Homo sapiens: one gene and its partner. The protein of the gene in region 2 interacts with the protein of the main gene of each other region in a pairwise test. Each region holds a gene or a part of one and is shown on either strand. Other genes may lie near its edges.

What was found. The genes of interacting proteins can lie anywhere in the genome.
Region 1: the proteins of FAM120A (region 2) and UPF1 interact in binary tests that used the Homo sapiens proteins (3 or more experiments, as listed by UniProt).

The regions. Positions count from the first base shown.
Region 1 is NC_000019.10:18,827,026-18,834,962, forward strand, and holds the start of UPF1 (regulator of nonsense transcripts 1), read left to right. Parts: upstream 1-4,933; 5' UTR 4,934-5,184; coding exon 5,185-5,415; intron 5,416-6,648; exon of another isoform or gene 6,649-6,663; coding exon of another isoform or gene 6,664-6,765; intron 6,766-7,937. UniProt on the Homo sapiens protein: RNA-dependent helicase required for nonsense-mediated decay (NMD) of aberrant mRNAs containing premature stop codons and modulates the expression level of normal mRNAs.
Region 2 is NC_000009.12:93,447,622-93,454,699, forward strand, and holds the start of FAM120A (constitutive coactivator of PPAR-gamma-like protein 1), read left to right. Parts: upstream 1-4,063; 5' UTR 4,064-4,294; coding exon 4,295-4,768; coding exon of another isoform or gene 4,769-5,088; exon of another isoform or gene 5,089-5,980; intron 5,981-7,078. Other genes in the region: uncharacterized protein FAM120AOS, read right to left, coding at 1-76, 2,858-2,978, 4,526-5,088. UniProt on the Homo sapiens protein: Component of the oxidative stress-induced survival signaling. May regulate the activation of SRC family protein kinases. May act as a scaffolding protein enabling SRC family protein kinases to phosphorylate and activate PI3-kinase.

The sequences.
Region 1 (7,937 bases), on a different chromosome or scaffold from region 2:
ACTTGAGCCTGGGAGGTCGAGGTTGCAGTAGGCAGAGATTGCAACATTGTGCTCCAGCACCCACAATAGAGTGAGACCCTGTCTGTACAAAAAAAAAAAACAACACTTTTTTTTTGAGACAGGGTCTCACTCTATTGCCCAGGCTAGTCTCAAACTCCTTTACTCAAACACTCCTCCTCCTACCTTGGCCTCCCAAGCTGCTGGGATTATAGGCGTGATCCACAGTGACCAGCCTTGATTTCTTTTTAAATCCATTCTGACACACTCTGCATTTTAGGTAGAGTTTAATCCATTTACATTTAATGTAATTGCTGATGAGCACTTATTTCTGCCATTTTCTGATGTTTCTTTTTCTTTTTTTTGAGACGGAGTCTCACTCTGTCACCCAGGCTGGAGTGCAGTGGCGTGATCTCGGCTCACTGCAACCTCTGCCTCCCGGGTTCAAGTGATTCTCGTGCCTCAGCCTCCCGAGTAGCCAGGATTACGGGTGTGTGCTACCATGCCTGGCTAATTTTTGTATTTTTCATAGAGATGGGGTTTCACCACGTTGGCTAGGTTAGTCTCAAACTCCTGACCTCAAGGGATCCACCTGCCCACCTGCCTCAGCCTCTCAAAGTGCTGGGATTACAGGTGTGAGGCACCGCACCTGGCCTCCTATTTTTCTATACATCTTATGTCTTTTTTGTTCAATTCCTCCACTACTGACTTCTTTTTTGTTAAATAGATGTGGTTTTTTTTTTTTTTTGGTCTTTTTCTTTAAATAGATGTATTCTAATGTACCATCCCAATGTCACTTTGCAATTGTGAGTGTATACAGGAAATAAGAAGAGATCTTTAGAAATGGAGTAGGTGGGTCAAAGTGGGAGAGGGGCAATTAAAACTCTGAAAGGTGGGCTGGGTGTGGTGGCTCACGCCTGTAATCCCAGCACTTTGGGAGGCTGAGGAGGGAGGATCGCTTGAGCTTAGGAGACTGAGACCAGCCTGAGCAACATAGTAAGACACTGTCTCTACAAATAAACAATTTAAAAGATAGCTGTGTGTGGTGGTGTGTGCCTGTAGTCCCTGCTACTCATGAGGCTGAGGTGGGAGGATCCCTTGAGCCCAGAAGGTTGAGACTGCAGTGAGCTGGGTCACACCACTGCACCCCAGTCTGGGTGACAGAGCAAGACCTTGTCTAAAAATAAATTTTAAAAACTCTGATAGGTGTTACTAAATTGATCTGAAATTTGTCTACAAATTCCACTGGATGTGTTCCAAAGAGAGCTTTGCATGATATTAAAATTATCTGTTGGTCTGTCAGTATTCCCCCTTAAACTGTGCCTTCTTGGAGAGGGAGACCTACTTTTATTCATTGTTTATATTCCTACAGTTTAGTGCATGCTAGGAGCCCCCCTGAAATGTTATTTTTATTTTCTGTAGAGATGGGGGTTTTGCTGTTTCCTAGGCTGGTCTTGTACTCCTGACCTCAAGTAATCGTCCCACCTCAATCTTCCAAAGAGCTGTGATTATAGGTATGAGCCACTATGTCTTGTCCCTGAAAAAGAGTGAAGAAGGCTGTGGCTCACACCTGTAATCCTAGCACTTTGGGAGGCAGAGGCAGGTGGATCACCCGAGGTCAGGAGTTCGAGACCAGCCTGGCCAACATGGTGAAACCCCATTTCTCCTAAAAATACAAAAAAATTAGCCGGGCATGGTGGCAGGTGCCTGTAATCCCAGCTACTTGGGAGGCTGAGACAGGAAAATTGCTTGAACCCAGGAGGTGGAGGTTGCAGTGAGCCAAGATTGTGCCATTGTACTCCAGCCTGGGCGACTGAGTGTAACTCCGTCTCAGGGAAAAAAAAAAAAATGTGAAGAAGGAGAACAGAACCTCTGTCCCTGTGATGATAAACAGGCAAATTGGAAATAAGGAACCACGGCAAACTGGGAACTTTTAGTTCAGCTGTGCAAGCTAGGAGCTCTTTCAGCTGACTTATTTAAAGAGCAGCAGAATCTTGGGACAGAAAGGGAAATGAGGGTGTTTTCCAAGATACTTTACCAGAGAGGAAGCGAACGCCTGGGGTTAGGAAATTAAGGCCCATAAACCAGTAGCTTACCTTGGATTTAAAGTGTCAGAAAACTTTTTATTGAGCACCTACTGTATGAGGCATCATTCTCTCCGTGGGGAAGATCATAATGAACAAGGCCAACACCCTGTCCTTATGGAACTATGCATTAAGAGAGTGACTGGTAGCTCATTTATTCCTCTCATATATATATATATATATATATACACACAGAGAGAGAGAGATAGAGTGTATATATATATACACACACACACTCCCTATCTATATATAATAGAGTGACTAGTAGCTCATTTATTCTTATATATACAGTGTGTATATATATGTATATACACGCACTGTCTATCTCTGTCTCTATATATAATAGAGTGACTAGTAGCTCACTTATTCTTATATATACAGTGTGTATATATATGTATATACGCGCACTCTCTCTATATATATAATAAAGTGACTAGTAGCTCATTTATTCCTCTCATATATACAGTGAGATATATAATATACATCATATATATATATACATATATATATATGTATATATATATATATATATATATATATATATATATATATATATACACTTTTTTTTTGAGACGGAGTCTCGCTCTGTCACCCAGGCTGGAGTGCAGTGGTGCAATGTTGGCTCACTGCAGCCTCCGCCTCCTGGGTTCAAGCAGTTCTCCTGCCTCAGCCTCCCAAGTAGCTAGGATTACAGGCACGCACCATACCCGGCTAATTTTTGTATTTTTAGTAGAGACGGGGTTTCACCACGTTGGCCAGGCTGGTCTCGAACTCCTGACCTTGGGTGATCCACCTGCCTCTGCCTCCCAAAGTGCTGGGATTACAGGTGTGAGCCACAGCCTTCTTCACTCTTTTTCAGGGACAAGACATAGTGGCTCATACCTATAATCACAGCTCTTTGGAAGATTGAGGTGGGACGATTACTTGAGGTCAGGAGTACAAGACCAGCCTAGGAAACAGCAAAACCCCCATCTCTACAAAAAATAAAAAATAAAAATAACATTTCGGGGGGGGCTCCTAGCATGCACTAAACTGTAGGAATATAAACAATGAATAAAAGTAGGTCTCCCTCTCCAAGAAGGCACAGTTTAAGGGGGAATACTGACAGACCAACAGATAATTTTAATATCATGCAAAGCTCTCTTTGGAACACATCCAGTGGAATTTGTAGACAAATTTCAGATCAATTTAGTAACACCTATCAGAGTTTTTAAAATTTATTTTTATACAAGGTCTTGCTCTTTTGGCCTCCGAAAGTGCTGGGATTACAGGCGTGACACACCGCACCGGGCTCCATATATATCAGCAGCAACCATATATCACATGAGAGTATGAGAGGAATAAATGAGCTACTAGTCACTCTATTTATATTAACATAAATAAATATATATTAATATACACACACACACATAGGATCTCTGTCACCCAGGCTGGAGTGCAGTGGCACAATCATAGCTCACCGCAGCCTCAAACTCCTGAGCTCAAGTGATTCTCTTGCCTCTACCTCCTAAAGTGCTGGGATTTCAGGAAAGAGCCACCTTGCCCAGGCTTCCTATGCCACCTTAATGGCAACAGAAACCCTAGGCTCAGAGAGGTTAAGTCACTTGTATAATTTCACACAGCTGGTAAGTGGTCAGGTCTAGAGTCCACCACAGACCATGTGCTTCCAGTTGTTTTGCTGTATACGTCCACTAAATAATAATCATAGCAAAAATAGTAATGGTATAATAACAGTGGCAGAGGCATCAGGAACAGCAGCAACCATCATTTCCAAGTGCCAGGCCCAGTACGTAAGACTATCCCCATTCATTTATTTTTACTTATTTTTGAGACAGGGTCTCGCTCTGTCACCCAGGCTGGAGTGCAGTGGTGCAATCTCGGCTTACTGCAGCCTCAACTTCCCAGGGTCAAGCGATCCTCCCACCTCAGCCTCCCTAGTAGCTGGGACTACAGGTGCGAACCACCACGCTTAGCTAATTTTTTTTTTTTTTTTTGAGACAGAGTCTCACTCTGTTGCCCAGGCTGGTGTGCAGTGGCACAATCTTGGCTCACTGCAACCTCCGCCTCCTGGGTTCAAGCGATTCTCCTGCCTCAGCCTCCTGAGTAGCTGGGACTACAGGCTCGTGCCACCACGCCTGGCTAATTTTTTGTATTTTTAGTGGAGACGGGGTTTCACCATGTTAGCCAGGATGGTCTCGATCTCCTGACGTCATGATCCACCCGCCTCGGCCTCCCAAAGTGCTGGGATTACAGGCGTGAGCCACCGCGCTCGGCCTAATTTTTATATTTTTTGTAGAGATGGAGTCTCACTCTGTCTCCCAGGCTGGTCTCGAACTCCTGAGTTCAAGCAGTTCTCCCGCCTCAGCCTCTGAGTGTTGGGATTACAGGTGTGACCACCGCGCCGAGCCCCACTCCCTTTTTAAACCAATGCACAGGGAGCATCTACTATGTGCGAGGCACCCTCCATTTTACAGATGGGGAAACTGAGTTCCAAGCAGCTTTTGCCAGGAGTGGGAGCGCACCGTCCCTGCCCAGTCTCTCCAGTTGGGCGTTCCGAGACCACCTATGTAGGGTATTCGGCTAGCGCTCAATTAAACCGAAACACCGTCGCAGCGACCACAGGTGCAGACCACCAAGTCCACACCGCCAGCCGCCCGGGCGTCCCCAATTAGCAGTTGGGGCGGGACCAAGTCCTCGAGCTGCCGCCGCAGCGGCGGTTGAAAGCCCCACCCCCTGCGCGTGCGCGGTGCGCGTCCCGTCTTCCTGCTGGGCACCAGGCGCCCGCGAAGAGCGCGCGCGCTTCCGCCGGCGTCGGGCTCGCGCACGCGCACGGCGACGGCGGCGGTGGCGGCAGTTCCTGCTCTAGGCTGCGAGCGGCTGGCGGCTTCGAGGGGAGCTGAGGCGCGGAGGGGCTCGGCGGCAGCGGCGGCGGCTCGGCACTGTTACCTCTCGGTCCGGCTGGCGCCGGGGCGCGCGGTTTGGTCCTTTCCGGGCGCGCGGGGGCGACAGCGGCAGCGACCCGAGGCCTGCGGCCTAGGCCTCAGCGCGGCGGCGGGCTCGAGTGCAGCGCGGAACCGGCCCGAGGGCCCTACCCGGAGGCACCATGAGCGTGGAGGCGTACGGGCCCAGCTCGCAGACTCTCACTTTCCTGGACACGGAGGAGGCCGAGCTGCTTGGCGCCGACACACAGGGCTCCGAGTTCGAGTTCACCGACTTTACTCTTCCTAGCCAGACGCAGACGCCCCCCGGCGGCCCCGGCGGCCCGGGCGGTGGCGGCGCGGGAGGCCCGGGCGGCGCGGGCGCGGGCGCTGCGGCGGGACAGCTCGACGCGCAGGTGAGCGGCACATGGCGGTGCCGGAAGCCCGGGCCCGGCCTCGGCGCCTGAGACCTGCCCCGAACTCGCCTCGGGCCCGGCCTGTGTTTGGCCGGAGTCCCCCATCGCGGCCGGGCCTGGGGCGATCTGCCCCGGGTCCCCTACTCTGGCTCGGCCTGAGCTTACCTGCCCCAGGTCCTGCAATCTGCCCGGGCCTGGCCTGATCTGCCCCGGGTCCCCCGCTCCGGCCGCGACCTGGCTGAGTTCCTTCGGCCCCCAACTCCTGGGCCGGGCAGACTTGCCTCGAGTCCTCCACTTCGTTCGGGACCGAGCTAACCTGACCCTGTTCCTTTACGCCAGCTGGGTTTGCTCCCCCTCCTGGGCCCGGGCTGACCTGCCTTGTGTCCCACAATCAGTCTGGCCTGGAGTAACCTGCCCCCTGACTTATCTGAGTTCTTCCATTCCATCCGGGCTAGGGTGACCTGCCCTGGTCCCTCTTTCGCAGGTCTCGGTATTCTGCCTCGAGTTCTCCTACGACCTGGGCCGGGTCTTGCTCAGGCCGGAGCTTGAGTGACTTCCCTCAGTCCCTTTCCGGGAGTATCCAGGGTGACCTGCCCTAATCCTGTCTCTGGCCTGGTCCGGGGGTCCTGCCCGGTCTCCCCATTGGTGGGTCTGGCCGCCTGTCCCACCTCCCATCTGTGGTCGCAGCCATCTGGGCACCCCACCTTTCACAGTCACGGAGCGTAGGTTCGACTTTCCCCATGCATAGGGGCGCTGGCCAGCGGAAGGTTGAGGCAGAGAAGAATTTTTGCCTCCCATGGAGGAGCACATATTGGCTGGCTATTAAGATCATTCAGGAAGCAGGTTGTATTTTGTTTTTTCTTGCATCGCCTGTTGCTGAAACCGACCTGTTACATAACTTCACAACTCTTGCCTTGGAAAAGTTGGGTTTGAGTTTTGTTCTTCCAATAAGACAGCAATAATGGCTTTACATAAACGAGTCTGCCACGTTGGAAACTTATTTTTAATGATGTGGATGTTTAGAGAAGGTTACTTAGGTATTTTAAATGGGGGCTTGGGTTGGGAGAAGTATCGGGCATGCATTTCCTGGTCCTGGGCGCTGCTTGCCTGGGGTGGGAGAGGGGCTGGGGGGGTGGCGCGTGTTGCACCGGGGTCCTGGGGAATGTCCTCATCACCCTCTGGATTTCAGGTTGCTTTCACCTTAGGCTTGCTTTGTGCCTGACCTCTCGCTCAGGTTTGTTTTCCTGAATGCTCCGACAGGAAGAAGCTCCGAGGCTTACCTTGGCACAGGTGTCCCTTGGCATATGCTGGTGTTTCAGAACTGGGGGAACCACTCCTTGCTCATCCAGAGTGAGCTCAGACCCTGTCCTTGCATGGGGGGCTTACGTGGTAGTCGATTGAGTCACTCTCGTGGGTAGACCACCCACTTGGGCTTTCTTTTAGCCCCTAATGGAAGCAAAAAACATTTGACTCATTCTAACCCCATATTCCTTAAAATAGAAGGTGGGGTGTGAGGAGAACAGGTGTGCACGTATGGGTGTTTTTTTCAGTTTTGTTTACATTTTGCGAAGGGAGGGAGGGAGAGAGGAGAGTTCTCCTGAAGAAGGGAGTCTGAGCTGCGGAGGCCCCACCTCCTTGTAGTTTTCATGCCCTGTAGACCTTTCTGCTTCCGCAGCTGTGAAATGGGGGTGGCAGTTAGATTTTTATTCCTTTTAAACATAAAGGAAACCTAGATCCATGTGTGAGTCGACTGTATACGCTGTCTGTAATCTGACGTCCAGCCTGTCGGGGAGACTCGGTAAAGATCTCTGTGGAGCAGTGAGCCATGAGCGTGACAGCGCGGATCGGGGGGTTGGCTGGGTGTGAAAGGTAATCATTTTCTTGTGAATCCTTTTAACTGTAGCGAGCATAAAACAGCAAACCTGGGGCAGCCTTTAGTTCTGCTTTTGTTTCTGGCATTCCGTTTGGGATTAATTGTGGGGCATGTCCTTCTCTTTCAGTTGAAACAATTGATTTTTTTTCCTGCACCTGAACACACTGGGCTGTACAAAAGGAGAGCATTAAAACGCTCCCCTGGAGGTAAACATTGCAGTTGAGCTCACTAGAATTCTGACGACATCAGAGGGTTTGTCCTGTGCTACTTGTAATTGACCCAGATGCCCCACCCACCTGTTACCTGTAATTTGGATTTGTTTGTGGGGAATGGGAGTGGTACCCCTTTGCATCACAAGGGGAAGAACGGAATTTGGGGGCAAGGAAGTCTATGAATATCATTCAAGGGAAAGCGGAAGAAAGTTATCTCTTGTGTGAATTGAAGGCAGTGTCTGCTAAGATATTTGGGAAGACTTTCCCTGTTTGTCCTCAGGAGTTGGCCGTGTAACCAGCTGTTAAGTTGGGGGCTCCTGGAAACTCTCATTCTGCTTTTTTAATTTTTATTTTACTGGGGAAGTGGCTATCAGCTGTCAAGTGCCCTGCAGTCACTTTTGCTTAGCGGCTTTATTGAAATAGAATTCACTTGCCAC
Region 2 (7,078 bases):
TCAAGAATGATCTTAGTGTTGGTGGTTTTGTGGTTTTCTTTGAGACTTTGTTATTGACAGAACAGCTTCTGGAAATCTGAAAAGAAAAAAAAAAAGGTAGTTTATATATTAGTTTGGAATATGAAATGTATTTTGTCATGGTCTCCAGAGTCCGAATATTGATCTCTGTGGAGCTCTCCTACCCTCTGCTACTGCTGATAACTCATAGTACTGGAGAGATAGCAGAGCCTGAAGACCAAAAAACTCAACTGCCGATACACGGCTGCAGTGTGGTCAGTTACTGATCTACCATTTATGAAGCAGGCCTACAGATGTGTGTGTTCTTCTGGGTAATTTAAATTGACAATTAATTAACAGGGCTGGTGCTAGGTAAACATTATAGGTTAGAATCCCTAGTGTGGATTAATTTGCTCTCTTCCATGATCGCAGACTCCCTGCTTAGCTCCAGTCTGCTGGTCTCCCAACATCTGCTAATGATTACATGGGCAGCATTAAGGTCTCTTATTACCTTGTTTGAAAAACTGGAAACTCATCTGTTATTGTTGGTGGTTAGATACCTCACCTAAGTAAAATATTAATTAATGATATTAGGCTGGGCGCGGTAGCTCATGCCTGTAATCCCTGCACTTTGGGAGGCAGAGGCAAGTGGATCACTTGAAGTCAGGAGTTCGAGACTGGCCTGGCCAACATGGTGAAACCCCGTCTCTACTAAAAATACAAAACTTAGCCAGGTGTGATGGTGTGTACCTGTAATCCCAGCTACTCCAGAGGCTGAGGCAGGAGATCACTTGAACCTGGGAGAGGGAGGTTGCAGTGAGCTGAGAACACATCATTGTACTCCAGCCTGGGCAACAGAGCAAGACTCCATCTTGGGGGAGAAAAAATAAATAAAATAAATACAAAATAAAAAAAGAAAAAGTCCCCAACCATTAGTTGTCATATTGTAACCTCCAAGAAGACATAACTTTTTATTAAATTTTAAATACAGATGTTTATTTTTTATTTTTTATTTTTAAGATGGAGTCTCGCTCTGTTGCCCAGGCTAGAATGCAGTGGCGTGATCTCGGCTCACTGCAAGCTCCGCCTCCTGGGTTCACGCCATTCTCCTGCCTCAGCCTCCTGAGTAGCTGGGACTATAGGCGCCTGCCACCACGCCCGGCTAATTTTTTTTTGTATTTTTTTTAGTAGAGACGGAGTTTCACCGTGTTAGCCAGGATGGTCTGGATTTCCTGACCTTGTGATCCGCCCACCTCAGCCTCCCAAAGTGCTGGGATTACAGGCGTGAGCCACTGCGCCCGGCCCAGATGTTTATTTTTACCTCAATATTTAAGCAATTTAACTTCAACCAACCCCTGAATTTGAGTTAAGGATGCAGAGTATATAAGTGTTTGTCAGCTAAACATTTTGCCCACCATCAATAGCTACTCAATAAATAAAGTTTTTTTTTTTTTTTTTTAAAGAACACAAAGCTAAATAGGGCAACTAAGAATTGAGTTTTATGTGTTATGATACAATAATGAATTTTAAACTTTCCAAAAGTACAATAACTGGTCTATGTTCTCGAGTATAAGTCTAGACAAATACAGTTTCTGGAAATAACTACAAAAGCCAACATTTATTGAGCATTTGTTGTGTGGCAGGCACACAGGTTATCTGATTTAATCCTTATAACAACCTGGGAGGTTAAGTACTATTAATATGTTGATTTTACAGATGATAAAATCCAAGGTTCAATAAGGTAAATATTTTTGCAAGGGCACAGACTTATCATAAGATGGATATTGGGGGCCTGACTCCAGAACCTTAGACCTCTACAATATAATAAGGTGAAAATAAATTTATTTCCAGAATTCCAGATACTGGCACTGGCATTTTTTTTTTTTTTTTTTTTTGAGATGGAGCCTCGCTCTGTTGCCAGTCTGGAGTGCAGTGGCGTGATCACTGCAACCTCCACCTCCCAGGTTCAAGCAATTCTCCTGCCTCAGCCTCCCGAGTAGCTGGGACTACAGGTGCGCACCACCACGCTCGGCTAATTTTTGTGTTTTTAGTAGAGATGGGGTTTTACCATGTTGGCTAGGATGGTCTCCATCTCTTGACCTCGTGATCTGCCCGCCTCGGCCTCCCAACGTGCTGGGATTACAGGCGTGAGCCACCACGCCCGGCCGCACTAATGCATTTTTAAAAATTAAAAGCAAGAGTGTTTAAAGAAAAGGTAAATACACGGAATGCAATGCTACAAATGAAAATACGAGTGATTAAAAACTACTACTCCTCACCTTGTGAACCTGCCTTGGGTTATAAAAGCAAATTTGGATATTTCTGGATTTTGCTCGTTATTTAATGGCTAACTGTATTATTTCTTTTATTTATTTATTTATTTTTGAGACGGAATCTCGCTTTTTGCCCAGGCTAGAGAGTGCAGTGGTGCCATCTCCGCTGACTGCAACCTCCGCCTCCCGGGTTCAACCAATTCTCCTGCCTCAGCCTCCCAAGTAGCTGGGATTACAGGCGCACACACCACCAGGCCCGCCTAATTTTTGCATTTTTAGTAGAGACGGGGTTTCACCATGTTGGCCAGGCTGGTCTCGAACTCCTGATCTCAAATGATTCACCCGCCTCGGCCTCCCAAAATGCTGGGATTACAGGCGTGAGCCACCGCACCTGGCCTGTATTATTTTTAGATAACATGTCATCCTGGCTTTGTGACTAATTTTATGCATAGGTGAGTGGCATAACTTGTCAGCCTGCTTTTAAATGTAACTTCCTAAAATACCAGCAGCATTTAATTTATGTACGTATGATACTGGCTTGCATTTGAGGTGGGTATCAGAAAAGAAAGCAGAAAAATCCAACTTGCCTTTTTCACCGGGAGTATGGGGGCTTCTTTGGCCAAACCGTGCGCGTGCAGGCTCCATGTGCTGGGCAGCAGCTGTCCGGCCACAGCCTGTCGGTTGCATCCTGCTCCTCTACAGAGGTTTCTCCAAAAAAAGAACAAATGGAGAGATGAAGGTAAGTAAAAGCGGCACTTTAAAACTTTTAGAGTGCTGGGTTTCTAAATTTATATTCTGAAAGACATTAATCTCTTTTTGAAAATGTTTTATGCAAGCCTAATATACATACAGTATCAACCTCATTTTAGAAGCAGTTACGACAGAGCTTTGGAACAGAATTTACGTAAACGACCTCCTTCCAGAAGATGCTACTAAAGCAACAAGATTCAAATCCCTCTCCCTCAGAAGAGCTGGGAGATCCACTGCAAAGGCGCACGTTTCAGTCTAGCCATTGCGCAGTGGTAACGCAGGCTTTCCCACGCTGCAACAGACCTGTGCTCTCAAGACAGTCTCTTCCGTGACGAGCAGGCGCTTAGGGCTACCTGTACCTTCAGACATTATGGTGTGTTTGGCCATGTCATTTGTCATAGGTGTAAAAACCACAACCGAGAGCCCGAAGCTGCTGGGATGAGCACCTGCCGCGGAACTGCATTCTCGCGCTCCTTCCTGCTCTTTCCAAGAAGCCAGGCGCGGCCGGCCAGCATCCCGCTCTCCCGGACCCCGCAGTCAGTGTGGGCAGCAGGCCCAGAGTGGTGCGAGCCGACGGCGGCGTTAGAAAGGCGGCGTCCCGACGAACAGAGTGACTCGGCCTCGGCTCCCCTTCAAAGCGCCATCTTATCGCTGCTTCCCTCAGGAGCAGGCGAGCTCTTCCCCAGGACCTGCTTCGCGGCTTCCCTTCGCCCGAGAACCACCGGGCGGAGGCGGCGGCCTCTCTGGCCCTGCCGGGAACAGGGCGCAGGGGAGGGGAGCGGCGGCCGACCGGCCTGAGGCGGGCGAACGGCCTCTGGCCTCCAGGCGCTGCCTGCTCCGGCTCAGAAGCCTCCCGGATCCCGTCCCGGCCCAACTCCGGGCCTCCGCCTCCGCCGCCGCCTCCGGGAGCCCCGAGCCGCGTCCCGCCGGCGCCGCCTCTTCCGCCTGCTAGCCGGCGGGCCTGGGCGGCGTCCGCGCCGGGCGGGTCCGCTACGTCAGCGCCGCCCGCCCGCCCCGCCCCGGCCCTCAGCCTCGGCCTCGGCCTCGGCCTCGCAGCGGCGGCAGCGGCGGCGGCGGCAGGTCCCTCCCCAGACATGGCCCTGGGAGGCGGCAGCACATGGCGGCCGCGGCGGCCATGAGCGCGCCCCCGACCCGCCCCAGTCCCCCCTAGAGGCCGCCGCCCCCGCCCGCCAGCCCGCCCGCGCGCCACGGCCCCACCACCCCCGGCCCCGCCGCCCCCCGCCCGCACCCGCGCCCGCGCCCCCGCCGCCGCCATGGGCGTGCAGGGCTTCCAGGACTACATCGAGAAGCACTGCCCGAGCGCCGTGGTGCCGGTGGAGCTGCAGAAGCTGGCCCGGGGCAGCCTGGTGGGCGGCGGGCGGCAGCGGCCCCCGCAGACCCCGCTGCGCCTGCTGGTGGACGCCGACAACTGCCTGCACCGCCTCTACGGCGGCTTCTACACCGACTGGGTCAGCGGCGGCCAGTGGAACCACATGCTTGGCTACCTGGCGGCGCTGGCCAAGGCCTGCTTCGGCGGCAACATCGAGCTCTTCGTCTTCTTCAACGGCGCGCTCGAGAAGGCCCGGCTGCACGAGTGGGTCAAGCGGCAGGGCAACGAGCGCCAGACGGCACAGCAGATCGTCAGCCATGTCCAGAACAAGGGCACCCCGCCGCCAAAGGTCTGGTTCCTGCCGCCCGTCTGCATGGCCCACTGCATCCGCCTGGCGCTCATCCGCTTCCACGTCAAGGTGAGGCCGGGGATCCGGGCGGGCCGGGGACCGGGGCCGCGCCGCACCCCTATCCCCCTTCCCAGGGCGCAGAATGTCGCCCGGCCGTGGCGGCGCTGGGGGCAGCGAGTTCCCCCAGCCCTTGCCCGGGATAGCCTGGCCGGGCCGGGCTGCAAGATGGATGGCCGCGGGTGCAGGCCGCGCGCTGCCCAAGCCCGTCTCCAGCTGTCCCTGTTCGGGGTCCGCGGCCGCGTGGGGACACTTGAGGGCTGGGAGAGAGCCCCGGACCAGAATTCGGAGGCGACAGTGTCATCATCCCCAATATCCTTAGTTTTTCCCATCCTATTTGAGGCGGGCAGGCTATCACTCACCTTCAACTTTGACAAAATACTCCCTTTTCTAATTTAGCCTGTTCTTTCCCAGCAACAGGTTCATCTTGGAAGCAGGCAGGATACAGAGTAATAGAGGGGGTTTCGCCAGAGCCCTTGGGGGCTGCAAATATCAGTGCTGCTGCCGCCGCCCTTGCCAATGTTGTTAGCCCGGTGACAGCGAGACGTGTCTAAGGGCCAGTGCCCTGGCCTCTACTTCAGAACGCAGTGCCCTGTCCGTGTTCCTCTTAGTACAGGGTGTTTAGAGAATCTTTCTATGGCTTTTTGTGTTAGATTTCAAAGACCCGTGCACTTTGACAGGATGGGATTTTGTCAGTTCTGTGACTTCACGTCCGTGTGAAAGAGGTCTTTAAGGCAGTTCGGTTTTGTAGATCCCATGCGAAAGGAGTCGCTCAAAATCAGGGGGCGAACTACGCGGGCGTGAACTCGCAGGATTTATTTTTCGGGTGCACAGTAAGTATTCAGTGACCTTCAGCGGTGCCCTGACGGGTGGGTAATCAGAGCTCTATATCACCGGCCTCCTCTGGCCCTTTGGCAGAGGGCTTCGCAGCTGGCACTGGGCCAGAGGAGAACTTCAGGACCCAGCAGTGACTGTGAAGATAAGCACATCCATGATCCTGGACTTCACGTTCTGATTGCTTGCTTTTTTCATTGGTTTTCTTGAAAACAAATTTTGGGGGCCTTTTTGTTGTCTTAGCTCTTGACACTCGGTCTTCCATCTTGTCATTTGACATTTCCTTGAAACTGCTGGAGCTGAAAGTTTGTGAAATTCTGTCTTCGCGGTTGCCCCCACTGCCCGCGAGGAGATGGTGGTAGTTAAGCCTAAAATGATAGCGGAAGTCCCACCCACGATCCGGTTGCAATTGGTGAGATGGTGTTTAAGTCGTGGGTGGAGGCGGCCGGCAGAGTCCCGATTGGCCCCTGCGCCTGGCAGACACACAGCTGCCATTCCTCAGGGAAGTTCGGGTGAGAGGAAGTGCCTGCCTTTTAATTTCTGAATCGGAGCCTGGGGCGCTCAGGGAAGTAAGGTGCTGCCATTTGTCTGAAGCGATCCATCTCCCTAATAGAGCGTAAAAGTGTTCATAGTTTAGTCTTGTTCAGAGATGGAAAAGACTACTTAAAAGACAGGATGAGCTGCACTGACTTGCCTTTGGTAACCGCACAGCTCTCTACTTAACTAGTCAAGCGACTTTCAAGGGAACACTGTGAATATTACTTAGGATTAGAATCAGTATGTATGCATATGGTCACTGTATCTTTAAAGAACTGTTGAGTTCTTTTTAATTCTACAGTTTCTTTATCTTTGCACCCCTTTGAATGCCTCGCACACCTAGTAGGTGCTCAGAATTCAGACCAATGTGTCAGTGTTAGGAAACTAGATTTAAGCTCCATTTAAGATCGTCTTTTTCACTTAGGTTTCTGGACACGGGATAATGGGATAATTTTGTCTGTATTTTGCTTTTGCTAAGCTTTTAATTATTGACCTAGGGTCATATTATAGTGCGAATTGCACAAAATGAATATTGTAATAACTCAATTACTTGGTGGTCTCTTAGCTGGCAACCTTACCTTTTTGAAAAGTGCCTAAGAGATTTAGCTACTAGAAATTTCTCAGCAACCAAGCAAGATGTCAGGAAGTTTGGGTACAGTGATGTGGGGGGTTGGCGGGTGTAGGGGGGTGCTTTTGCTTTCCTCACTGAAGAATCCTTTAAGCTCTCTCACTCATGGACTGGCCTCTTTTCATATGTAATTCTAACAAGCTTGGTTATCTATTTTCTAAACTCAGCTTGAGAAGAGGATGAAGAGGAGAGTCTGCCAGAGGCAGGAGCACCATTAATAGCAAGAAGTGACAAGAGAGATTTAAAAAGCTATAAAAAGCAAACATAATTCTGGGGCTATTTTAAGAAAAGGAAAACAACCCTATGTACTTCCTTGGTCCCTG